Linked DNA regions of Homo sapiens. The protein of the gene in region 2 purifies or fractionates together with the protein of the main gene of each other region. This does not show direct contact. Each region holds a gene or a part of one and is shown on either strand. Other genes may lie near its edges. The genes, in order: PIAS4, IKBKG, TNFRSF1A and NFKBIB.

The links.
Region 1: the proteins of IKBKG (region 2) and PIAS4 purify together in Homo sapiens (affinity purification with western blotting; 5 studies listed by BioGRID, with this or other methods). This does not show direct contact.
Region 3: the proteins of IKBKG (region 2) and TNFRSF1A purify together in Homo sapiens (affinity purification with western blotting; 4 studies listed by BioGRID, with this or other methods). This does not show direct contact.
Region 4: the proteins of IKBKG (region 2) and NFKBIB purify together in Homo sapiens (affinity purification with western blotting; 5 studies listed by BioGRID and IntAct, with this or other methods). This does not show direct contact.

The regions. Positions count from the first base shown.
Region 1 is NC_000019.10:4,017,704-4,024,738, forward strand, and holds part of PIAS4 (E3 SUMO-protein ligase PIAS4), read left to right. Parts: intron 1-6,332; coding exon 6,333-6,417; intron 6,418-7,035.
Region 2 is NC_000023.11:154,543,792-154,550,631, forward strand, and holds the start of IKBKG (NF-kappa-B essential modulator), read left to right. Parts: upstream 1-3,828; 5' UTR 3,829-3,954; intron 3,955-4,055; exon of another isoform or gene 4,056-4,298; intron 4,299-6,840. Other genes in the region: G6PD (glucose-6-phosphate 1-dehydrogenase), read right to left, coding at 2,245-2,372, 2,998-3,079. UniProt on the Homo sapiens protein: Regulatory subunit of the IKK core complex which phosphorylates inhibitors of NF-kappa-B thus leading to the dissociation of the inhibitor/NF-kappa-B complex and ultimately the degradation of the inhibitor.
Region 3 is NC_000012.12:6,328,256-6,332,096, reverse strand, and holds the end of TNFRSF1A (tumor necrosis factor receptor superfamily member 1A isoform 1 precursor), read left to right. Parts: intron 1-103; exon of another isoform or gene 104-129; coding exon of another isoform or gene 130-221; intron 222-1,170; coding exon 1,171-1,244; intron 1,245-1,385; coding exon 1,386-1,499; intron 1,500-1,801; coding exon 1,802-1,830; intron 1,831-2,030; coding exon 2,031-2,319; intron 2,320-2,474; coding exon 2,475-2,785; 3' UTR 2,786-3,326; downstream 3,327-3,841.
Region 4 is NC_000019.10:38,902,952-38,909,407, forward strand, and holds the end of NFKBIB (NF-kappa-B inhibitor beta), read left to right. Parts: intron 1-2,063; coding exon 2,064-2,169; intron 2,170-2,250; coding exon 2,251-2,584; intron 2,585-4,269; coding exon 4,270-4,358; intron 4,359-4,447; coding exon 4,448-4,708; coding exon of another isoform or gene 4,709-4,756; exon of another isoform or gene 4,757-5,779; coding exon 5,780-5,881; 3' UTR 5,882-5,938; downstream 5,939-6,456. UniProt on the Homo sapiens protein: Inhibits NF-kappa-B by complexing with and trapping it in the cytoplasm.

The DNA.
Region 1 (7,035 bases), on a different chromosome or scaffold from region 2:
TGGAGTCTGACTGTCGCCCGTGCTGGAGTGCAGTGGCGCGATCTTGGCTTACTACAGCCTCCTGGCTTCAAGCGATTCTCCTGCCTCAGCCTCCCAAGTAACTGAGATTACAGGCACGCACCACCACACCCAGCTAATTTTATGTACTTTTAGTAGAGACGAGGTTTCACCATCTTGACCAGGCTAGTCTTGAACTCCTGACTTCAGGTGATCCACCTACCTTGGCCTCCCAAAGTGCTGGGGTTACAGGCGTGAGCCACTGCGCCCAGTCTCATTTTTTGTATTTTTAATGGAGACGGGGTTTCGTCATGTTGACCAGGCTTGTCTTGAATTCCTAACCTCAAGTGATCCACCTGCCTCGGCCTCCCAAAGTGCTGGGATTATAGGCGTGAGCCACCAGGCCCGGCCCCAGTCAGCCTTTTAAAAACTCCCTGTGTTTCATTTCTATTTAAACTTGTACAATTATGCGCTTGTCCTAGAAAACTGGAGTCAACAGCAGAGCAGTCCGGCCGGCGCCCTGCTGCCCGAGTGGGCCGCCTCGGTACACCGGGCCGGTGCTTGCCGCCTTCTCCCTTTGCATGTGTGATTGTAGGAATGTGTGGCTGTGTCCTGGCTGCTATTTTATAACCACCCCCCATACTGTGAGCATCTGCTCACAGCGTTAAATATTCATCGTCAGCAGCATCTCGTGAGGCTCCCTGGCAGCCTTGGGTGGAGCCAACGGCTGGGCCCTTCTTGTTGGGCTCTCGGATCGGGCCCAGGGGCTGCTTTTCGTGCCCGGGCCGGAGGGCCTGGCTGAGCACCTCACCCCAGAACCGGCTCTGCCTGGCAGGGCCCCCGTGGTCACCTGATCTTGCACCTGGCCCCAAAGGTGCATCTGGTTCAGTGGTGCCCTTGCCTTGGTCCCGTGGCCTTGGATGCTGGGCAGCCCACGAAACCATCTCCCCCTTGGGGAACTTCATGCTTCAGTGGCCCAACAAGAAGGAGCAGCAGAGTGATGTAGGGAAACTGAGTCGCTCCTTAGGAGGAGAAGGTTTGGAGAAAAGTGAGGTGGCGGGGGGTGCGGTTTTTAAATGGGGTGCTCAGCGAAGGCTTTCCTTCTGGTGACATTTGTACAAAGACAAATATAGGGCCATGAGGCTGGTCGGGGGAGGAAGGTTCCAGAAGAGGGAATGGCAGGTGCGGAGGCCCTGATGCAGCATGGCTGGTGGGGCCCAAGCAGGAGGCCAGGGTGGTGGCCGTGTGTGCGCCGGGGTGTGTGTGGCCCTGAGCAGGGGTACTGAGGGTCAGGGGTCTCCTGCGGAGCCATCCCAGGGGGCGGGCTCTGGCTGCTGAGACCGGCAGAGCTGGGGGCAGTCGTCTGCACCGGGCGGGATTTGAAAACAGAGCTGACAGGACTGGCTGAGGGAGTGGATGTTTGCAGGACAGCAGAGACGGGGGCTTCATGGATGCCACCTGGGTTTCTGGCCCCAAACAGCTGACCCCGAGGGCAGAAGGGCAGGTTTGAGGGAGACCCCACAGCCCCTTCCCCAGCATAGGGGGGCCGGGTGTTTGGGGGGAACCGTCAGCGGCCCGGGGCCAGTGGCACAGCAGTGAGAGCACAGGGCACCTCCCAGGCCCCCAGCAGAGAAGCACAGCCCGGTCTCCCCCAGAGGGAGGAGCCCTCCCAGGGCAGGGACCCCAGAGTCTTGTTCTTCAATGACTGGGCCCTGTCTGCCCCAGGCATGGGCTGGCAACAATCCCTGGCCAGCTGGGTGGCTCCCTTGCTGCCTGCTGGGGACCCACCCTTCTCCCCTACCTCCTTCTGAGACACTGAGGGGTGGGGTGTCTGTGTTTTCACCTCCGACCCAGCCTGGAAGCTCAAGGCCCAGCTCAGGTGTAGGCTCCCGTGCAGCCTCCCTGCCCCTGAACCATTGCTCCCCTGGCACTCAGGGCAGACCTGGGCGCGTCTGCAGGTGGCCTGTGTGCCCCCCTCCCAATTAGGCGGCCTTCCTCAAGGGCCCAGCCGGGACTCCACAGCCCATCACCTCTGCAGAGACTGGCTGTGCCCTGAGCATATAAACGGGAACCGGCTGTGGCAGCCCCCTCTTCCTGAGGGCCAGCCACAGACCCGGCACCGGTCCCCGAAGAAACAGGTCAACATGGGCGGGACGTGCAGGCTGAGGCCACAGAGGCCCTGGCAGGGCTGGGAGCCGAGCCCAGGGAGTCTGGCTTTTTTCTTTTTTTTTTTTTTGAAATGGAGTCTCGCTGTCGCCCGGGCTGGAGTGCAGCGGCAGGATCTCAGCTCACTGCAAGCTCCGCCTCCCAGGTTCACGCCATTCTCCTGCCTCAGCCTCCCGAGTAGCTGGGACCACAGGCGCCTGCCACCACGCCCGGCTAATTTTTTGTATTTTTAGTAGAGACGGGGTTTCACCATGTTAGCCAGGATGGTCTCTATCTCCTGACCTCATGATCCGACTGCCTCGGCCTCCCAAAGTGCTGGGATTACAGGCGTGAGCCACTGCACCCGGCTTCTCGTGGGTTTTAATTGAGAAAGTTCCAAGACAGTGCTGGTAGTTGAGGTGCGATCCCATGGCTCCGGTTCTTGTAAAGGCCCTGTCGTGGGTGCAGGCCACACCACTGTGTGCACTGCCGTCCTGGGAGCACCTGGGAGCACAGACATAGCCTGCGAAGCTGATGAGCTCCAGCCTTTACCAGGGGCAGTTCGCCATCCCTGTTCTAAAGGGCTTGCCTGTCATCTCGTTGTCTCGTCTCCCGGCCACTGCAAGGCTGCCATTGTGGCCAGATTCTCGCTCCCCCACGCTCTTCCGATATTTTTTACACTTATAAACAAATAGGTGTTTACTCAGATGCCTTCTCTCCATTTTCATTACACAAGTGATAGCAGGACGTGCACGCTGCTCAGCGTTTTTGCTTTGTATCTAAATATATTTTTTAATGTAGACACAGTCTTGCTATGTTGCCCAGGCTGGTCTCGAACTTCTGAGCCCAAGCAGTCCTCTCACCTCAGCCTCCTGAGTAGCGGGAATGACAGCTGCACACCAGCACACCTGGCTCAGGCTTATTTAAAAACTTTTTTTAGAGACAAGGTCTCACTGTGTTGCCTGGGCTGGGCTCCAACTCCTGTGCTACAGCGATCCTCCCACCTTGGCCTCCTGAAGGGTTGGGGTTACAGGCATGAGCCGCTGTGCCCAGCCTGCAAGTTTCTTTGAACGCATGTTTCCATGTATTGAGGGAAAATACTTTGGAGTGGGATTCCTGATTCCTGGGTGATAGGGTAGGTCTGTGCTTACCTTTATAAGGGTAGTTTCCCAGAGTGATGGTACTGTCTTATAACCCCACCAGCAGAGAGTTCTGATTGCTCTACACCTTTGCCATCTCTTAGAGTTGCCAGTCCTTTCATTTTAGCCATGCTAGTGGGTGTGTAGAGAGGTATTTTATTTTATTTTACCTCATTTTATATTATTGATACAGAGCCTCACTCTGTCACCCAGGCTGGAGTGCAGTTACACAATCTCGGCTCACTGCAACCTCCGCCTTCTGGGTTTAAGCGATTCTCCTCAGCCTCCCGAGTAGCTGGGATTAGAGGCGTGTGTCACCATGCCTGGCTAATTTTTGTATTTTTAGTAGAGATGGGGTTACCATATTGTCCAGGCTGGTCTTGAACTCCTGACCTCAAGTGATCCACCTGCCTCGCCTCCACAGTGCTGGGATTCCAGGCATGAGCCACCGCACCTGGCCTGGGTGTGTAGAGAGGATTTAAACCGGTCTTGGATTTCTACACAAATCGCAGGGGCCTGAAATACTGGCTGATATTTTGTGGAGGATTTTACATCTGTGTTCATGAGGGGTATTCATCGGGAATTTTCCTTCCTTGATGCTGAGTTGTGAGGTTTTGGTATCAGAGTTATGCTGGCCTTGTAAAATAAGAAGTATGCTTTCCTTCTCTGTTTTTTGAAAGAGTTTATGTACGGTTTATGTGGTTTCTTTCCAAAATGTTTTATAGAATTCACCGATATGGACCTGCATTTTCTTTTTCTTTTTTTTTTTTTTTTTTTTTGAGATGGGGTCTGATTCTGTTGCCCAGGCTGGAGTGCAGTGGTACGATCATGGCTCACTGCAGCCTCCACTTCCTGGGTTCAAGCAATCCTCCTGCCTCAGCCTCCAAAGTAGCTGGGACTACAGGTGGTGTGCACCTCCACACCTGGCTAATTTAAAAATTTTTTGTAGAGACAAGGTCTCACTTTGTTGCCCAGGCTGGCCTCAAACTCCTGGGCTCAAGCAATCCACCCACCTCAGCCCCCAAAGTGCTGGGATTACAGGCATGAGCCACCATGCCCAATCTGGACCTGCAGTTTTCAGAAAAGGTTTTAATTATGGATCCAACTTCCTTAACAGGTAAAGAGCTTTTCAAACTTCCTGTATCTTTTGGTACCCGTTTTGGTAATTTGCATCTTTGGGAGGATTTGTCCATGTCACTAAGTTGTCAGATTCATTGGCATAAAGTTTCACCTTTTATTCCCCTATTGAACCGAAAAGCTGTAGGGTCTGTACTATTGTTCTTTCATTTCTGATATTGGTAGTTTGTGTTCTCACTGTCTTTTTGTTGTTCAGCTAGAGTTTTGTTTTTTTTGTTGTTGTTGTTGTTTTTGGTGGTTTTTTTTGAGACAGAGTCTCGCTCTGTAGCCCAGGCTGGAGTGCAGTGGCACGATCTTGGCTCACTGCAAGCTTCGCCTCCCTGCAAGCTCCGCCTCCCAGGTTCGCGCCATTCTCCTGCCTCAGCCTCCCTAGTAGCTGGGACTGCAGGCGCCTGCCACTACACCCAGCTAATTTTTTGTATTTTTAGTAGAGATGGGGTTTCACCGTGTTAGCCAGGATGGTCTCGATCTCCTGACCTCGTGATCCACCCCCCTCGGCCTCCCAAAATGCTGGGATTACAGGCGTGAGCCACCGCGCCTGGCCGTTTGTTTTTGTTTTTGTTTTTTTGGGTTTTTTTGGAAACAGTCTCACTCTGTCGCCCAGGCAGTGGTGTGATCTCCACTCACTGCAACCTTTGCCTCTCAGCTTCAGACAATTCTCCTGCCTCAGCCTCCCAAGTAGCTGGGATTACAGGCGCCCGAACCAGGCCTGGCTATTTTTTTTTTTTTTGAGACACCACACCCTGCTGTTTTTTTAAGAGATGCGGCAGCCAGGCGCCGTAGCTCATGCCTGTAATTCCAGCACATTGGGAGGCCGAGGTGGGCAGATCACCTGAGGTCGGGAGTTCGAGAGCAGCCTGGCCAACATGGAGAAACCCTACCTCTACTAAAAATAGAAAATTAGCCGGGCGTGGTGGCTCATGCCTGTAATCCCAGCTGTTTTGGGAGGCTGAGGCAGGAGGATCACTTGAACCCAGGAGGTGGAGGTTGCAGTGAGCTGAGATTGTGCTATTGCAGTCCAGCCTGGGCAACAAGAGTGAAACAAAGTCTCAAAAAAAAAAAAAAAAATGGGGCTGGCTGGGCACAGTGGCTCACGCCTGTAATCCCAGCATTTTGAGAGTTTGAGATGGGCGGATCACCTGAGGTCACGAGTTCGAAACCAGCCTGGCCAACATGGCGAAATCCCATCTCTACTAAAAATACAAAAATTAGCCAGGCTTGGTGGCTATTCGGGAGGTTGAGGCAGGAGAATCGCTTAAACCCGGGAGACGGAGGTTGCAGTCAGCCGAGATCGTGCCATTGCACTCCAGCCTGGGCGACAGGGTAAAACTCCATCTCCAAAACAAAACAAAACAAAACAAAACAAACAAAAACCAATGTTTTCTGACTGCGCCTCTGCCTGTCAGTCCAGTTGTAAGTAAGAGGGTAGGGCCCAGGCTTGTGAGCACCATGGCCTTCATCCCGTCAGTACCCCCCGCACCACCTCTGTCCGGGTGACGTGGCCACCCTGCAGGCAGGAGGAGAGCAAGGGCCGGGTCCGGTTTGTGCTCAGGAGAGAGGAGGTATGGCAGTGTCCTGCTGGCCTGGCTGGGTCCAGCTCTCCCCGCCAGGCAGCTCGGCACTTTTCGGTTTCCTAAGTAGACGCCTGCATCCCACAGGCTGCGAAGGTCACCCAGCAATCTGAGTGGCCGTCAACAGGACACAGGCCATGGTGAGCGGCCCCGAGAAGGGGATGGGCGGGAGTCCTCCCTCATCCTCCTTCCTGGGCGGCCCCCACCTCTGCCCCACATATCTGTCCAGCCAACTTCCCATTTCCTGTTTCCTGGTCTGAAGAGGCGCAGGCTGGGAAAAGCGACTGGGCTCGGGGGACCTGCCAGGGACCAGACATGCCCCTGACCCCGTGTTTGTCTTCAGTCCCACAGAACAACGAGAAGCTTCAGGAGAGCCCGTGCATCTTCGCATTGACGCCAAGACAGGTGGAGTTGATCCGGAACTCCAGGTGTGCGGCACCTCCCCCAGCCCAGCACCCCACCGCCCGCCCACCCACTTTCTCCTGGGCTCACTGGGGAGAGCCGGCAGCCACGTCCACTGCAGGCCTCGCTCGGGCTCAGTCCAGAACCGTGCTGCAAGGCAGTGGCCGGGTTTGCTTCCTTCCAGAAAACCCCATCCTGGGTCTCAGGTGCTGGCCTGTGTGCCCACTGCCTGTGCCCTGCAGCCTGCTAGAGAGAGGCGGACTGACTGTGCCCTTTTAACACGGTCTTGCCCTCCTGGGCCCATCCTGGGCATTGCAGGGAGCGGAGGAGCATTCCTCGCCTCCACCCACGCCATGACAAGAACACACCCCTGTTGTGACAACCACAGATGTCCCCAGACATTGTCCAGTGTCCCCTAGGGCAGGATAACCCGGGCGAGACCTCCCTGGGTTAGGGGATTCCACGTATCCCCAAGAGACTCTGTGTCCCATGATCCTCTGCCCTGCTGAGGTCCCAGAAGGCTGCATACATTGAAATCCACACCCTGAATTGGAGGGGGAGAAAGTAGGTGAATCCCAGGAGCTGGGGGTCCCCGGTTTACACCGCCCGCCTTAGGAATTTATTCTGGTGTCCAGCATGAGCAG
Region 2 (6,840 bases):
CAAGCGATTTTCCTGCCTCAGCCTCCCAAGTAGCTGGGATTACAGATGGGTGCCACTACACCTAACTAATTTTTGTTATTTTTTTTTTTTTTTTGAGATGGAGTCTCACTCTGTCACCCAGGCTGGAATGCAGTGTTGCGATTTCTGCTCACTGCAAGCTCCGCCTCCCGAGTTCACGCCTTTCTCCTGCCTCAGCCTCCTGAGTAGCTGGACTACAGGTGCCCACACCAGGCCTGGCTAATTTTTTATTTAGTAGAGACGGGATTTCACCATGTTAGCCAGGATGGTCTCAATCTCCTGACCTCATGATCCACCCGCTTCAGCCTCCCAAAGTGCTGGGATTACAGACGTGAGCCACTGCGCCCGGCCTTTTTGTTTTGTTTTGTTTTGAGACAGAGTCTCGCTCTGTCGCCAGGCTGGAGTGCAGTGGCGCGATCTCAGCTCACTGCAACCTCTGACTCCCTGATTCAAGCGATTCTACTGCCTCAGCCTACTGAGTAGCTGGGACTACAGGCACGCACCACCACGCCCAGCTAATTTTTGTATTTTTAGTAGAGATGGGGTTTCACCATGTTGGCCAGGATGGTCTCGATCTCTTGACCTTGTGATCTGCCCACCTTGGCCCCCCAAAGTGCTGGGATTACAGATGTGAGCCACTGCGCCCAGCCAATTTTTGTATTTTAAGTAGAGACTGGGTTTCGCCATGTTGGCCAGGCTGGTGTCAAACTCCTGACCTCAGGCGATCCACCTGCCTCGGCCTCCCAAAGTGCTGGGAATACAGGCGTGAGCCACCGTGCCCGGCCAGGTATGGCTCTTCTGAGGGGACCAGGCTGGGGCTGGGGCTGAGGCCAAGCCCAATCTACTGTGGGCTCCACCTGGTACCTCTCCTGGGTCTCAGGCTTATGGGGAGTCAGAGGACAATGGCCCCTCCTTACTCTGCCACTGGCAGAGCCCTTCTCCCTCGGCTGCCTCCTCATTCCCTTTTGGCTCTCCTTTTCTAAGTTCTGATCAGAAGTACAAAGGTGTCAAGGAGTAGGTTTGACAAAGTGTGACAGCGCGTTGTTCTATGTGAACAAAGAACCACTGAGCTCAGCCAGCACTGAGGGGCGCACGATGTGGAAGAACTAACTAGTTTTGATAGAGCTCCTGCTCAAGGTTACAAGGTAAGTTAATGGCAAAGATGGTCATACAGTAATGAGCAGAGAGATTCTTGAGTGCATCCAGGGTTAAAAGTGAAAACTGAGACCACGTGTAATTTGAGATGAAGCCCTTGTTCCACCAGCCCCTGCACAGTCTCACTGCCCCATGGGACACAGGGGAGGGTGCTCTAGTCTCGGGCGATGGCTGTCCTAGGACCACCCCTCCCTCCCCTCCCATGGAAATCCTCATGCTATACTATTCTTTTGTCTTTCCTATGAGTGCAGAATGGCGGTTCTACAAGCTGGACAATTGGGGCCAGGTGGGGTGAGGCAGAGCTCCTTGGTAGGCTTTCGAAATTGAGGCAAAGAGACAGTGTTCAAAGAAAAGCTAAGTGTTTGTATCGACGGAACTTGAAGTGTTAGTGAAGAGGCAGAGATCAGGCCTCAGATCCTGCCTTTGGAACTCATTTGTTAAGGCATGAACAGGTCTGAAAAAACTACAGAATGAATAGCATTCCCTGTTTTCCCCAAGAAGTCCATCTAGACAGTCCCTAAAGAGCCTGCAACTCCAGGATTAAGGGCTACATTCAGCGGCTAGGCACAGGGTTCAGAAACGTCCTGCAGCCGGGCGTGGTGGCTCATGCCTGTCATCCCAGCACTTTGGGAGGCCGAGGCGGGCGGATCACTTGAGGTCAGGAGTTTGAGACCAGCCTGGTCAACATGGTGAAACTCCGTCTCTACTAACAATACAAAAATTAGCCGGGTGTGGTGGTGCATGCCTGTAATCTCAGCTACTTGGGGGGCTGAGGCAGGAGAATCGCTTGAACCCAGGAGGCCGAGGTTGCAGTGAGCCAAGATGGCGCCACTGCACCCCATCCTGGGCGACCAGAGCAAAACTCCGTCTCCAAAAAAAAAAAAAAAAAAAAGTCTTGCAAGTGCATATGCACACCAGGTAGAGCCGGGATGATCCTGGCGCACTAGCAGGAGCGGGAGGAGGAGCTCAACTTAGCAGAGCCTGTGGGGCCCTGCAACAATTAGTTGGAAAAGCTGAGGCATGGAGCAGGCACTTCCTGGCTTTTAAGATTGGGGCCTGGGAGATACTCACCGATGCACCCATGATGATGAATATGTGTGTATCCGACTGATGGAAGGCATCGCCCTGGAAAAGCTCTTCCCGCAGGATCCCGCACACCTGGGTCCGGCTCAGGGCCACCTGCTCTGCCATGACGCTGTCTGGTGGAAGAAAGGCTCGTTAACAAGGCAGAAGAACAGGAGAGCATTGAGAAGTTAGCCCCTTTCTTGAGAGTTCCTCTGGGGTCTCACACCAGGGTGACACCTGATTGCCCAAATCACTCCTTGTGAACGGCTGGGCATTGGGGAGTGGTTGATGGGTTAGAAACTGCTGGCTCTGGGCTCCAGCCACTCTCTCCTAGGCAGCCTTCATTCAGGGTGTACATTACAAAATTACTCAAAGCATTGGTGTATTCCGACTACAGCATCAATTCTGGACAACCGAGTAAAATCCTTGTGGGGCATGGAACTGCGTGCCCAGGACCATCTCATTCCCGACTGTAGCGGGAACTCCACAATGACCTGGAGCATGGGAGATGGTGCAGATGCTGGAGTTCAGCTCCAGCCCTCCCCTTGCCAAGCTGGGTGACCCCGGTCGGCAAGTCCCCTTCGCTCTCGGGGTCTCAGGGGCTCAAGAGAGGAGGTGCGGGGTATAAAGGGATTGGTTAAGACCCTCTCGATTCTGCTCGGTTCTCAAGCACAACAAACAGCGTGTATTTTACCGCCGCGCGGCGCAGCGCGGGACAGTACGCTCCTCCGCCTGCGCGGCGCCCGCCCGGCCGGTTACCTGCGCTTCGTCGTCGTCGCCCTCCGCGCTCGCAGCCCCGAAGTGTACGACCGTTTCCGGGGGCTGAGCCCCGCCGGCCCATTTAATCGGCGGGGGCGGGGGCGGGCGCCTGGGCTGAGCGGACCCGCCTCAGGCGAGGCGTGCGGGGCGGGGCCTCGGCCACCACCCCTCGTGCGGGCGGGGCGGGGCGAGGGCAGGTGCGCGCGCATCCCAGGCCAGCCCCTGCCTCTCGGGCACCTGCGCTGGAGGCCGGCCCGCCGGCTGCCTGCCATACCCGCTGCCGCTGCTCTGCATCCCCAATTCCGGCGGGCACGGGTGCAGCTCCGCGTAGTGCTCCCGCATCCCCATCGCCGGCCCGGCCCCGCCCCTACTGTCCGGTTTCCCCGCCTGCCCCGGCGGCCTCGCGCGCTCGCGGAGGGCTCCACTTCCGCCGGCAGCGTGGCCACGCCTCCTCTGGGCTGTCCCTCGGCTCCTGGGCGGGGCCTTCTGCCGCGCCACTCCCCCGGGAACCCTCGCCTGTTCGCGGGTCAAGCCGGCCCTATTGGGCAGTCTCTTCTTGATTCCTCCCCCGGAGAGGGCGGGGCGGCCGAGCGCCCCGAGGCTAGACGCCGCCGTCCGAGAGACGAGGGGGCGTGTAGGCGGTGACGCCCTGCAAAGTGGCCGGCGTGCTTATCATTACCGAGCTTCCGCGGGCCTGCAGAGCCTGGCGGACTCAGACTTCTCTCCGGAGCGGGATGCGGCCCTACCGCGGCCTCACACTTCTCGCCGGCTTCCCGAGTTCTCGGGGGCGGGGCTTGTGTTTTTACTTCCGGATCCCACAGCTATGACACCGGAAGCCGGAAGCGTGGTAGGGAAGGGCGACCGCGAAACTGGGACTTTCTCGGAGCGCCGGGGCCCTACCAGCGTTCACAGTCCGCCGCTCCCACCCTTCTCACGTCTGACGGACTCTGCTGACAGGTGTGGTCCTTTTCCCCAAAGACAGGGTTCCATCCGTGGGCGTTCCGCCGCCTCCGAAACTTCCCCCGGACGTTCAGGCTCCCCCCTCTTTTTTGGGCCCCAGCCCGTTCCTGCTCCGCGCTTCTGGAGCACTGGCCAAGGCGGGCCGATTCAGGACCCAGGTTACTTGGGCGGCGAGCTGGACTGTTTCTACTCCTCCCTCCTCCTCCACTGCGGGGTCTGACCCTACTCCTTGTGTGAGGACTCCTCTAGTTCAGAGACATATTCTGTTCACCAAACTTGACTGCGCTCTATCGAGGTCGTTAAATTCTTCGGAAATGCCTCACATATAGTTTGGCAGCTAGGTATCTGATTTCATATGCCTGTTTGCTCGTTTTGCAAGACAACATCTGCCTATCGTCATACTGTTTCTGTGATCTGAGAATGAATGGGCTCTCCTGGCACATTAGAGGAATAGCACGGAGGTCACTATAGCTGGAGCAGAGTGAGGGAGGGGAGCACAGTTGGAGAGGAAGGGATGGGGAACCCGATGGTACAGGGCCTTGTAGGCCGTTGTAGGGAGATTGGCTTTTACGCAGAAGGCAACGGGGATCCATGGTAGGGTTCTCAGTAGAGGAGGAATGTGATCGGAATTACGTCTTACACTGATCGTTCTAGCAGTGGTGGGGAGAACAGACCATAGTGGGCAAGGGTAAAAGAAGGGTGGCGTGGTAAGAGGTAATTGCAGTAATCCAGCTCAGAGACAGTGCTTTGAGCATTTTATTATTGGAAATTTCAAAAATGTACGAAAGTAGAAAAATGAGTATAGTAAATCTTTTTGGTTTGTTTGTTTTTGAGAGATGGAGTCTCGCTCTGTCGCCCAGGCTGGAGTGCAGTGGCATGATCTCAGCTCACTCTAACCTCCTCCTCCTGGGTTCAAGCGATTCTCCTGCCTCAGCTTCCCAGGTAGCTGGGACTGCAGGCGTGCGCCACTACGCCCAGCTAATTTTTGTATTTTTAGTAGAGACGGGGTTTCACTATATGTTGGCCAGTCTGGTCTTGAACTCCTGACCTCAGGTGATCTGCCTGCCTCAGACTCCCAAAGTGCTGGGATTACAGGTGTGAGCCACTGCGCTCGGCCAGTATAGTAAATCTTACATTCACAGCTACCAACTTCAACAATTGAAGGTATCAACTTCTGACTAATTTTGTTTATATCCCTCGCAATCCTCTCCCATTATTATTTTATTTCTTTTTCTTTCTTTCTTTCTTTTTTTTTTTTTTTTGAGACAGAATCTCGCTCTGTCACCAGGCTGGAGTGCAGTGGTGTGATCTCCACCCACTGCAACTTCCGCCTCCTGGATTCAAGCGATTCTTCTGCCTCAGCCGCTGGGACTACAGTTGTGCACCACCACGCCCAGCTAATTTTTGTATTTTTAGTAGAGATGGGGTTTCATCATGTTGGCCAGGATGGTCTTGATCTCTTGACCTTGTCATCCGCCCGCCTCGGCCTCCCAAAGTGCTGGGATTACAGGCATGAGCCACCGCGCCCGGCCTCTTTTTTTGAGACCCAGTCTCACTCTGTCGCCCAGAATGGAGTGCAGTGGCACGATCTTGGCTCACCGCAACCTCCATCTCCCAGGTTTGAGCGATTCTCCTGCCTCAGCTTCCCAAATAGCTGGGATTACAGGCATGCACCATCACTCCCAGCTATTTTTTTTTTTTTTGTATTTTTGGTAAATACAGGGTTTTGTCATGTTGGCCAGGCTGGTCTTGAATTCCTGACCTCAAGTGATCCACTTGCCATGACCTCCCAAAGTGCTGGGATTACAGGTGTGAACCACCATGCCTGGCCACCACTATTATTTTCAATAACAGCTTGAGATATCATTAGCATGTCACACAGTTCATCCATTTAAAGTGTACAATTCAATGGTTTGTTGTATGTATATTCACAGGACATTTTCGTCACCCCTCAAAGAAACCCCATACCCTTTAGCTCAGCTTATCTTCCCCTCAGCCCTAAGTGGCACTCCCCAGCAATCTTTAATCCACTTTATGTCTCTGTGGATTTGCCTGTTGTAGACATCTTATATAAATAGACTCATACAATGTTTAATCTTTTGTGACTTGTTTATTTCTCAGCATATTTTCAAGATTTGTTCATGTTATAGCATGTGGATGTACTAGATTTTGTTTATTCATAGTTGATGGACATTTGGGTTGTTTCCACTCTCTGGCTGCTATGAGTAATGCTGCTACAAGCATTCATGTGGACACATGTGTTTTCATTTCTCTCCGGTATATACCTAGGAGTTTTCCCATTATTTGGAGGTGAATTCAGACATCATCTTTAAACATTTAAGTGTGCCTCTCTCTAAGACAGGACTCTGAAAAACAACCACAATATCATTATGACACCTAAAATAGTTAATGTTAATTGCTCAGTGTGATCAGATCGGTTGGGGGATACATTTTAACAGGATTTCTTGATGGATTAGATGTGCTCTTGTGTGTGTGTGTGTGTGTGTGTGTATGTGTGTGTGTGTGTGTGAGAGAGAGAGAGAGAATCAAAAAAGACTTTTGACAGCTGGAGGATGGATTCGCCATCAGCTGATAACAAAGAAGGCCTTGGGTAGATCTGGGTTTTGGGGACTGTCGGAGGTCTTAGAGAGGTTCGTTTTGAGAAGGCTACTAGATAACCAAGTAGAAATGTCGAGTTTGATAAATGAATGTGGAGTTTAGAAAAGAGGTCTAATTAAGCATCAAGATTGGAGTTCAAGGCATGAGACTGGACAGAATTCCTGTGGGAGTGAATGAAGTTACAGAGAAGAAGATGTCCTAGGACAGAGCCCTGGGGCAGCCCAACATGAAGGATGGGAACCCAGTGAGAGTGCCTGGGCAGGA
Region 3 (3,841 bases), on a different chromosome or scaffold from region 2:
AACCAAAAACAAAGAAACAAACAAAACCTACAACACGTCTGACACAAAACTATTTATTTTCCATTAATCTTCTTTTTTTTTTTTTTTTTTTTTTTTGACACAGAGTCCTGCTCTGTCGCCCAGGCTGGAATGCAGTGGCGCGATCTCGGCTCACTGCAACCTCTGCCTCCCAGATTCAAGCAATTCTCCTGCTTCAGCCTCCCAAGTAGCTGGGATTACAGGCACGTGCCACCATGCCTGGCTAATTTTTGTATTTTTAGTAGAGATGGGGTTTCACCATCTTGGTCAGGCTGGTCTCAAACTCCTGGTGATCCACCTGCCTCTGCCTCCCAAAGTGCTGGGATTACAGCCGTGAGCCACTGCACCCAGCCGGCTTCATCTCTTCTTGAAATCACTTTTATACCATTCTATGTGGTTCTCACCATGAGCTTGAGTGGTGGGCTAAAGTGCCTCTCCCTGCTTTCAGCTTCCTGCTGGGAACTCACTCTCTCAAGTTCCTTCCAGCACCACCCCATAGAGTTCCCATCACTCCACACTGTCCAGTGACAACTCCCAACATGGAAGATCTGCTAGTTCTACAGGGTGCTCTCTGGCTGCCCCAGTAACATGTGTTTTTAAATTTTTCACATGCATGTTTGACCCCGACTCCCCGAAGTCAGGTACTGTAACTAGCAGTGTCATTTAAGAAAAAGCCCTTTAACCTCTCTTTGCCAAAGGATTCTTATCAGCAAAACAGTGATGAAACAACAATCCCATAACAGCTAGCTGGCTACCTTCTCAAGCACTTATTAAATGAGGCATAATGATTTTGCTTAATCCTCAATCCTGAGAGGTGGGCGATCCCTGTGGTGATGAGGAAACCGAGGCTTGGGGGTTAATGGCTTGCCTAGATTCACACTGCTAGCCAAGGAATGAACTGGAATTTACACCCTGACCCTGACTGCTTTTCACATTTTCTACACAGCCTTTTCAAGATCCCTGCCAATTCTAAAATTAAATGATTCTATGATTAACTGTGTTTCATTCTTCTGCATCAGTTCCCAAAACAAATTATATCAAGAGACAGCAAAAATATTTGTAAAGAAAGGATGTCCAACAATCTGTGTGGTTGTTTTTCTGTGTTCCTCCAATGGTAGGGCCTCTGTTCACCAGTGCCGTCTCTTCTTTTAGCTGTAAGAAAAGCCTGGAGTGCACGAAGTTGTGCCTACCCCAGATTGAGAATGTTAAGGGCACTGAGGACTCAGGTGAGGAGAAGTGACCTGGTGCCCATGCTCACCTGCCCTCTCCCTCTTCTTGCCCCCACCCGTCCATCCATCCCACCCATCCATCTATCCCTGCGGCCCCCCTCTGCCCGCTCCTCTGACCAACACCTGCTTTGTCTGCAGGCACCACAGTGCTGTTGCCCCTGGTCATTTTCTTTGGTCTTTGCCTTTTATCCCTCCTCTTCATTGGTTTAATGTATCGCTACCAACGGTGGAAGTCCAAGCTCTACTCCATTGGTGAGTGGGGGCTTTGGGAGGGAGAGGGAGCTGGTGGGGGTGAGGGAGGACATGGGTGGGTGCGATGGACATGTGTGGAGGGAGGTGAGGAGTGTCCCCTCAGTTCATACCGCTGGGGACTCTGGGCAGAAGGTGGCCCTGGATGGCTGGGGAGATGTCGAGCTGCATCAGTAGCTCTCTCGTCCCTGGGGCCACATAGGCCCTGAGGCATGTCACCACAAGTCCCCACTGCCAGCTGAGTCCAGGGTGCCAGGGCTGAGAGAGGAAGTGAAATTTATGATGCTTTCTTTCTTTTTCCTCAGTTTGTGGGAAATCGACACCTGAAAAAGAGGTGAGATGAAATGAGAGAGTTACTCCCAAATGTCCCTGACCATTCCTTATAATTGCCTAATGCTCAGATCCCCTGGAATCATCCTTCACTTTCCGGGGGCTCGCCTCATTCCCTCTAAGTCCCAACCCCCACGTAGAATAAAGAGGGCCGGGGCTGGTTTTCGCTGCCGCACTAATGCTGCGCCACCTTCTCTCTTTCAGGGGGAGCTTGAAGGAACTACTACTAAGCCCCTGGCCCCAAACCCAAGCTTCAGTCCCACTCCAGGCTTCACCCCCACCCTGGGCTTCAGTCCCGTGCCCAGTTCCACCTTCACCTCCAGCTCCACCTATACCCCCGGTGACTGTCCCAACTTTGCGGCTCCCCGCAGAGAGGTGGCACCACCCTATCAGGGGGCTGACCCCATCCTTGCGACAGCCCTCGCCTCCGACCCCATCCCCAACCCCCTTCAGAAGTGGGAGGACAGCGCCCACAAGCCACAGAGCCTAGACAGTGAGTTTCTCCCGCGGCTGGAGACGAGGAGGCTGGGGGAGGGCCGGGGGAGCGCGGGAGGCGCTCCCAGAGGGGACCACGAGAGGCGGAGGGCGCGGGATGCGGGGCGGGGCCTGGGGTTGCCGCCCGAGGCTCACCGGCCCGCGTCCCCGCAGCTGATGACCCCGCGACGCTGTACGCCGTGGTGGAGAACGTGCCCCCGTTGCGCTGGAAGGAATTCGTGCGGCGCCTAGGGCTGAGCGACCACGAGATCGATCGGCTGGAGCTGCAGAACGGGCGCTGCCTGCGCGAGGCGCAATACAGCATGCTGGCGACCTGGAGGCGGCGCACGCCGCGGCGCGAGGCCACGCTGGAGCTGCTGGGACGCGTGCTCCGCGACATGGACCTGCTGGGCTGCCTGGAGGACATCGAGGAGGCGCTTTGCGGCCCCGCCGCCCTCCCGCCCGCGCCCAGTCTTCTCAGATGAGGCTGCGCCCCTGCGGGCAGCTCTAAGGACCGTCCTGCGAGATCGCCTTCCAACCCCACTTTTTTCTGGAAAGGAGGGGTCCTGCAGGGGCAAGCAGGAGCTAGCAGCCGCCTACTTGGTGCTAACCCCTCGATGTACATAGCTTTTCTCAGCTGCCTGCGCGCCGCCGACAGTCAGCGCTGTGCGCGCGGAGAGAGGTGCGCCGTGGGCTCAAGAGCCTGAGTGGGTGGTTTGCGAGGATGAGGGACGCTATGCCTCATGCCCGTTTTGGGTGTCCTCACCAGCAAGGCTGCTCGGGGGCCCCTGGTTCGTCCCTGAGCCTTTTTCACAGTGCATAAGCAGTTTTTTTTGTTTTTGTTTTGTTTTGTTTTGTTTTTAAATCAATCATGTTACACTAATAGAAACTTGGCACTCCTGTGCCCTCTGCCTGGACAAGCACATAGCAAGCTGAACTGTCCTAAGGCAGGGGCGAGCACGGAACAATGGGGCCTTCAGCTGGAGCTGTGGACTTTTGTACATACACTAAAATTCTGAAGTTAAAGCTCTGCTCTTGGAGACAGTGGTCTGTCGGGATGGGAGGTGGGGGCAGAGGCCCAGATCCTGAGGGGTGAGATGGGAAAAGCCCTGCACTAGGGCCAGGTAGCCCATCACCATCACGCCAAGTGACAGAGGAGTAGCAGGTTCTTGTTCTGAACACCGTCATCTGTTGCCCAAGCTGGAGTGCGCTCACTGCAGCCTCCAACCCTTGGGCTCATGGGGTCCTCCCGCCTCAGCCTCCGGACACAGGCACACCACCACACCTGGGTAATTTTTAAAATTTTTTTTTGTAAAGACAGGGTTTCCCTATATTGCCCAGGCTGGTCTGGAACTCCTGGGCTCAAGGGATCCTCCCACCTCAGCCTCCCAAAGTGCTGGGATTACAGGCAGCCATGCCCAGCCAGGGCAGTCATTTTTATGCACAACTTTCTGTGGGGCTCAGGTGCACCTATGATACATAAATTTACAGTTCTTGATCCCCAAACAGAGCAGGAGGCAGGGTGCCTGGGCCAGGCTTCC
Region 4 (6,456 bases), on a different chromosome or scaffold from region 2:
GTAATCCCAGCTACTTGAGAGGCAGGAGAATCGCTTGAACCCGGGAGGCGGAGGTTGCAGTGAGCTGAGATCACGCCACTGCACTCCAGCCTGGGCAGCAGAACGAGACTCCATCTCAAAAAAACAAAACAAACAAACAAAAAAAGAAAAAGAAAAACAAAACCAAAAAGAGAAACCATATGACCTACAAAGACTAAAATAGTTATCTGGCTCCTTACAGAAAAAGTTTGCTGACTCCTGCTGTAGGGTTGATAGTTTACAACTTTAGGTTATCATGGGCTACCTTAAAGTGATATTATGCCATTTCACATAGAGTAAAAGAAATTTATTTTATTTTATTATTATTATTTGAGACGGAGTCTCACTCTGTTGCCCAGGCTGGAGTGCAGTGGCACGATCTCAGCTCACTGCAACCTCCATTTCTCAGGTTCAAATGATTGTCCTGCCTCAGCCTCCTGTGTAGGTGGGATTACAGGCGCATGCCACCATGCCTGGCTAAATTTTTTTTGTATTTTTTGTAGAGACAGGGTCTCATCGTGTTGGCCAGGTTGGTCTCAAACTCCTGACCTCAAGTGATCTGCCCGCCTTGGCCTCCCAAAGTGCCAGGATTACAGGTGTGGGCCACCGTGCCCAGCATAATGAACTGTTTTAATATTCTTGTTTGCAAATTCTAACATCTCTGTCATTTCTGGGTCAGTTTCAATTCACTGATGGTTCCTATTATGGATCATGTTTTCCTGCTTCTTTACATGCCTGATAATCTTTGGTTAGGTGCCAGACATTGTGAATTTTGCCTTGTTAGTCTGGAGAATTCTGTATTCCTATAAATATTCTTGAGGCCGGGCGCCGTGGCTCACACCTGTAATCCCAGCACTTTGGGAGGCCAAGGCGGGTGGATCACGAGGTCAGGAGTTCAAGATCAGCCTGGCCAACATGGTGAAACCCTGTCTGTACTAAAAACTGCAAAAATTAGCCAGGTGTGGTGGCACGCACCTGTGGTTCCGGCTACTCGGGAGGCTGAGGCAGAAGAATCGCTTGAACCCAGGAGGTGGAGGTTGCAGTGAGCCACGATCGTGTCACTGCGCTCCAGCCTGGGCGACAGGGCAAGACTCTCTCTCAAAAAATAAAAATTAAAATAAATAAATAAATAAATAAATAAATAAATATTCTTGAATATTATTCTGGGATGGAGTTAAATTACTCGGAAGTAGTTTGAGTCTTTCCAGTTTTGCTTTTATGATTTGTTAGGTGGGTGTTGAGCAGTGCCCCATCTACAGTTAATTATTCCCCACTATTGAGGCAAGACCTTCCTGAGTATCCCACCCGATAGCCTGTGATGATGTTTTTCCAGCCTGGCTGGTGGGAACACTCACTATTCCTGGCCCTGTGTGAGTAACGAGCACTTTTCTGAAATCCTTTTGGATGGTTTTCCCATCCCCACAGACTCACAGGCATGGCTGATCCGTATTCTCCGGAATACACAAGAGAACCTCCTGCAGTTCCCCAGCAATCTCTCCTTTGGCAACTCTGTTTTGTACTCTGTCCTGTGACTCTAGCCACGCTGGCCTCCACAGACTCTTCCTCCATATCCATCTCCTGACCTCAGACAACCTGATGCGCTCTGCTTGGATTCCCCTCTCTGCACCGTGGCTTTGAAACTCTCTCAAGACAATAAGCTGTGGCAGTCAAGTGTGGGGCCCACCTCGTGTTTCCTGTCTTTCAGGGGTCACTGTGATTCATTGCACGATGTCCAGTGTCTTCAACACTGTTGCTTCATATACCGTATTTCGTCTGACTCTTGTTTGTTTGTTTGTTTGTTTCACGTGGGAGTGAATTCTGGTCCATGTTACTTCATTTTGGGCAGAAGTGGAAATCCCACTGAATAAACATTGATTCCACGAATTTGCTGATGAAACTCTGACCTCTGACCTCCCAGATAGCTGACAGGGGGTTCCAGAACTGTGGTCACAAGGCCTAGCATACAGTAGGCGCCCCATGTTTGTTCAATGAAGGAATGCAAGAGGACTTGAACTTTGCCCTCTCACCCCGGTCTTTGTCCCCAGGGCACTGCACTTGGCTGTGATTCATCAGCATGAACCCTTCCTGGATTTTCTTCTAGGCTTCTCGGCCGGCACTGAGTACATGGACCTGCAGAATGACCTAGGCCAGGTGAGCCACGAGGGATGGTGTAGGGCTTGGGGTCCAGGGTTCCCAGTGTGACTCCCTACCGCCTGTCCTCTGCTTCTGCAGACAGCCCTGCACCTGGCAGCCATCCTGGGGGAGACATCCACGGTGGAGAAGCTGTACGCAGCAGGCGCCGGGCTGTGTGTGGCGGAGCGTAGGGGCCACACGGCGCTGCACCTGGCCTGCCGTGTGGGGGCACACGCCTGTGCCCGTGCCCTGCTTCAGCCCCGCCCCCGGCGCCCCAGGGAAGCCCCCGACACCTACCTCGCTCAGGGCCCTGACCGTACTCCCGACACCAACCATACCCCTGTCGCCTTGTACCCCGATTCCGACTTGGAGAAGGAAGAAGAGGAGAGTGAGGAGGACTGGAAGCTGCAGCTGGAGGCTGAAAACTACGAGGGTGAGGGTCGTCACCAGGGAAGGACTCAGCTCCTGGGCTAGGCGAGAGCACCTGGCCCTGGGCTCAGCTTCCCTGATTTGAGACTGAGCTCCTTGGGAAATCATGCCTAGGCTTCAGGAGCCCACACATCGGGACCAGGGACCTCCACTCAGGGCCCAGATGATTGAGAATTGGATATGTAGGACCCAGGACCCCCACCTGGAGGCCCCAGGTCACTTGGGATGCAGACCTGTCACCCACAGACCCAGAGCTGCCAGGATCCAGTTGTCGGGCCCCCGGGCTCCCCACCTGCAGAGTGTATTGCAGACCCCTACCCTACCCAGGACCGGGGAATGCAGAGCTCAGGCCCTCTGTGAAACTCTGGCACCCCAGGCTCCCAGCAATGGGCAGCAGGGTTCAGAGACAGCCCTCCTCAGCCTCATGGGAAGAAGGGCTCATCTGCCCACAGCCCTGACATCCAAGTTTCTGCTCCCCTGCCTATAAGCCCAGCCACCTGAGACCAGACCCCTCCTCAGATGGACTGACGTCATTCAGGACCCAGTGTTCAGGGCCTGCCTCTCGCCCCCAGGTCACAGGCTTTTCAGCTACTTGGTACCTTTTTTTTTTTTTTTTTTTTTTTTGAGACAGTCTCACTCTGTTGCCAGGTTGGAGTTCAGTGGCGTGATCTTGGCTCACTGCAACCTCCACCTCCCAGGTTCAGGTGATTCTCCTGCCTCAGCCTCCCGAGTAGCTGGGATTACAGGGATTACAGGCACATGCTACCATGCCCAGCTTATTTTTGTATTTTTAGTAGAGACGGGGTTTTACCATGTTGACCAGGCTGGTCTTGAACTCCTGGCCTGGCCTTAGGTGATCTGCCCGCCATGGCCTCCCAAAGTGCTGGGATTACAGGTGTGAGCCACCGTGCCTGGGCAGGAACCTTAATTTAAGGTTTTTTTTTTTTTTTTTTTTTGACATGGAGTCTCACTCTGTTGCCCAGGCTGGAGTGCAGTGGCGCCATCTCAGCTCACTGCAAGCTCCGCCTCCTGGGTTCACACCATTCTCCTGCCTCAGCCTCCCGAGTAGCTGGGACTACAGGCGCCCGCCACCATGCCCAGCTAATTTTTTGTATTTTTAGTAGAGATGGGGTTTCACCATGTTAGCCAGGATGGTCTCGATCTCCTGACCTCGTGATCCACCCGCCTCAGCCTCCCAAAGTGCTGGGATTACAGGCGTGAGCCACTGTGCCTGGCCTTTATTTTTTATTTTTAGTAGAGACGTCTTGCCATGTTGCCCAGGCAGCTTCTTGAACTCCTGAGCTCAAGTGATCCTCTTGCTTTGGCCTCCCAAAGTGCTGGGATTACAGGTGTGAAATAGCGTGCCAGCTCAGGTCCTTTGAGTGATAAGAGCAGAGACTTGGGTCTCCTCCTGGCCCCAAAATCCAGGCTCCCTGTCCACAGACCCCAGGCTGTTTACCCGCGGGCCCCAGGCTTCAAACAACTCAGGCACTAGCACTTGCCAGCAAGCTCAGGCCATCTGAGATAGGCATTTGGTACCCAGGTACCTCTTTGCCATACCCAAGAATTCAGGAACCAGCCCCCAAACCTAATCACCCTCACGCCACATGACCCTCCCCCAGGATCAAAGCACGGTGGGGTGGGGGGGGCCCTCACCTCATCATCTGACGCCAATCACTCTGTCCCCAGGCCACACCCCACTCCACGTGGCCGTTATCCACAAAGATGTGGAGATGGTCCGGCTGCTCCGAGATGCTGGAGCTGACCTTGACAAACCGGTGAGCCCCAACCTCGGGGAAGATGCCGTCGGCGGGAGGGGGCTTGTCCCCTCTTCGGGCCCTCTGACCTTTCTGTTGCACCCCCACAGGAGCCCACGTGCGGCCGGAGCCCCCTTCATTTGGCAGTGGAGGCCCAGGCAGCCGATGTGCTGGAGCTTCTCCTGAGGGCAGGCGCGAACCCTGCTGCCCGCATGTACGGTGGCCGCACCCCACTCGGCAGTGCCATGCTCCGGCCCAACCCCATCCTCGCCCGCCTCCTCCGTGCACACGGAGCCCCTGAGCCCGAGGGCGAGGACGAGAAATCCGGCCCCTGCAGCAGCAGTAGCGACAGCGACAGCGGAGACGAGGGCGTGAGTCAGGAGGAGAGACAGGGCAGCCCAGCTGGGGGGTCAGGATAGACCGGCAGGCAAGAAGCCCAAGAAGATAATTAGGCACCGACCTTGGGCTGCTGTTAGAGAACTCAGGCAGCAGCGCCAGTGACACGGGGCACTAGTCAGGAGAGACCTGGACAGGGGTGGTGGGAAGAGCTTGGGCAGAAGTGGCTGAAAAACTAAGGCAGTGGCAAAGGTAGAACTCAGGCAGGGGTGGAGAAAAGGCGTTGGTCGCAGTGATTGGTGAACACAGCGGGGGTGGGTGGTAGCGCTGGGGGTGATTTTAGGCAGCAAGAATTGGAGAACTCACACTGCGAAAAGAAAACCTTGGGTGGCAGTGATTTGAACACCGGCAGTGCTGGGGCAGGACCCGAGCCAGCGGTGGGGAGAGATATAGTCAGAGAACCCAGCAATACAGATCCGTCCTTGGGCAAGGCGCGGTGCTGGATGATGGGTGCGGAGGAATTTGGGTAAAGGCAGAGGGAAGGGGTGGAGGAGGGCCAGCTCAGTTGCCGAAACTCTGGAGTGGCGGCTGGCTAGAAATTGGTCTGTAGAAATGACCTTGAAAATGGAGTTCTGGCCAGGTGCGGTGGCTCACGCCTGTAATCCCAGCACTTTGGGAGGCCGAGGCAGGCAGATCACGAGGTCAGGAGTTCGAGACCAGCCTGGCCAACATGGCAAGACCCTGTCTCTACTAAAAATACAAAAATTAGCTGGGCGTGGTGGCGCATGCCTATAATCCCAGCTACTTGGGAGGCTGAGGTAGGAGAATTGCTTGAACCTGGGAGGTGGAGGTTGCAGTGAACCTAGATCACGCCACTGCATTCCAGCCTGGGCAACAGAGCGAGACTCCATCTTAAAAAAAAAAAAAAAAAAAAGAAAGAAAAGAAAATGGAGTTCTGAGAGCTAGGAAACTGGGAGGTTGAGCCAGGAGCAGGGGAACTTGGGCTTTGAGGCGAGACCTAATTCTTAGGGTGCTCTATGAGGACATGGGTGGTGGGCAAAGTGACAGCCGCCTGAGCCCCTCTGCCTGGTCCCCTTTGCCCCCAGGATGAATACGACGACATTGTGGTTCACAGCAGCCGCAGCCAAACCCGGCTGCCTCCCACCCCAGCCTCAAAACCTCTTCCTGACGACCCCCGCCCCGTGTGATTTGTTTCATTGTTAATATAATTTCCAGTTTAATAAACAAAACCCTAGTTCTGACAACCAGAGACCAGACTGATCTTGTCTTCCCAGTCCTCCGGGTCCTTCTGGGGCCCATCCCTGTCACATCAAGTGCTGCTCACGGAGGCAGGGTGCGTTTCTTTGTGCTTTATTCACTCAGAAGGGTTGGAGTGGGAGTGCATAGGTGTGGGGGTGCTTCCTGTGTCAGGGCTGAGCCCAGCCCCCGGCCCAGCTCAGACTCACCTCCTTGGGTGTGGTTCCAAGGCACGTCCGCCTCCTCCCCTGTTTGGGTAGGGGTGGCGTGGGGTGCTAGGTGAGGTGGAGGCTTCGGGGTCAACAGTCCTAAGCCACAGGGTGTGTCAGGAGGAAGGAGGGACTGAGGTAGGGGTCAGCCCTCCCTCCTGAGCTGCTCCCCCAGCGTCTCTGTCACCTTCTTCAGTTCGTCTCTCAAGTGCTCCAGCTGCTCCACCTCCTTTTCCTGGTGGGGTCAGAAACGGGGTAGTCAGCACCCACCTTCAAAGGCAGGCCACCTCGGTCACTGTGATTGTGGGCCATGTCGG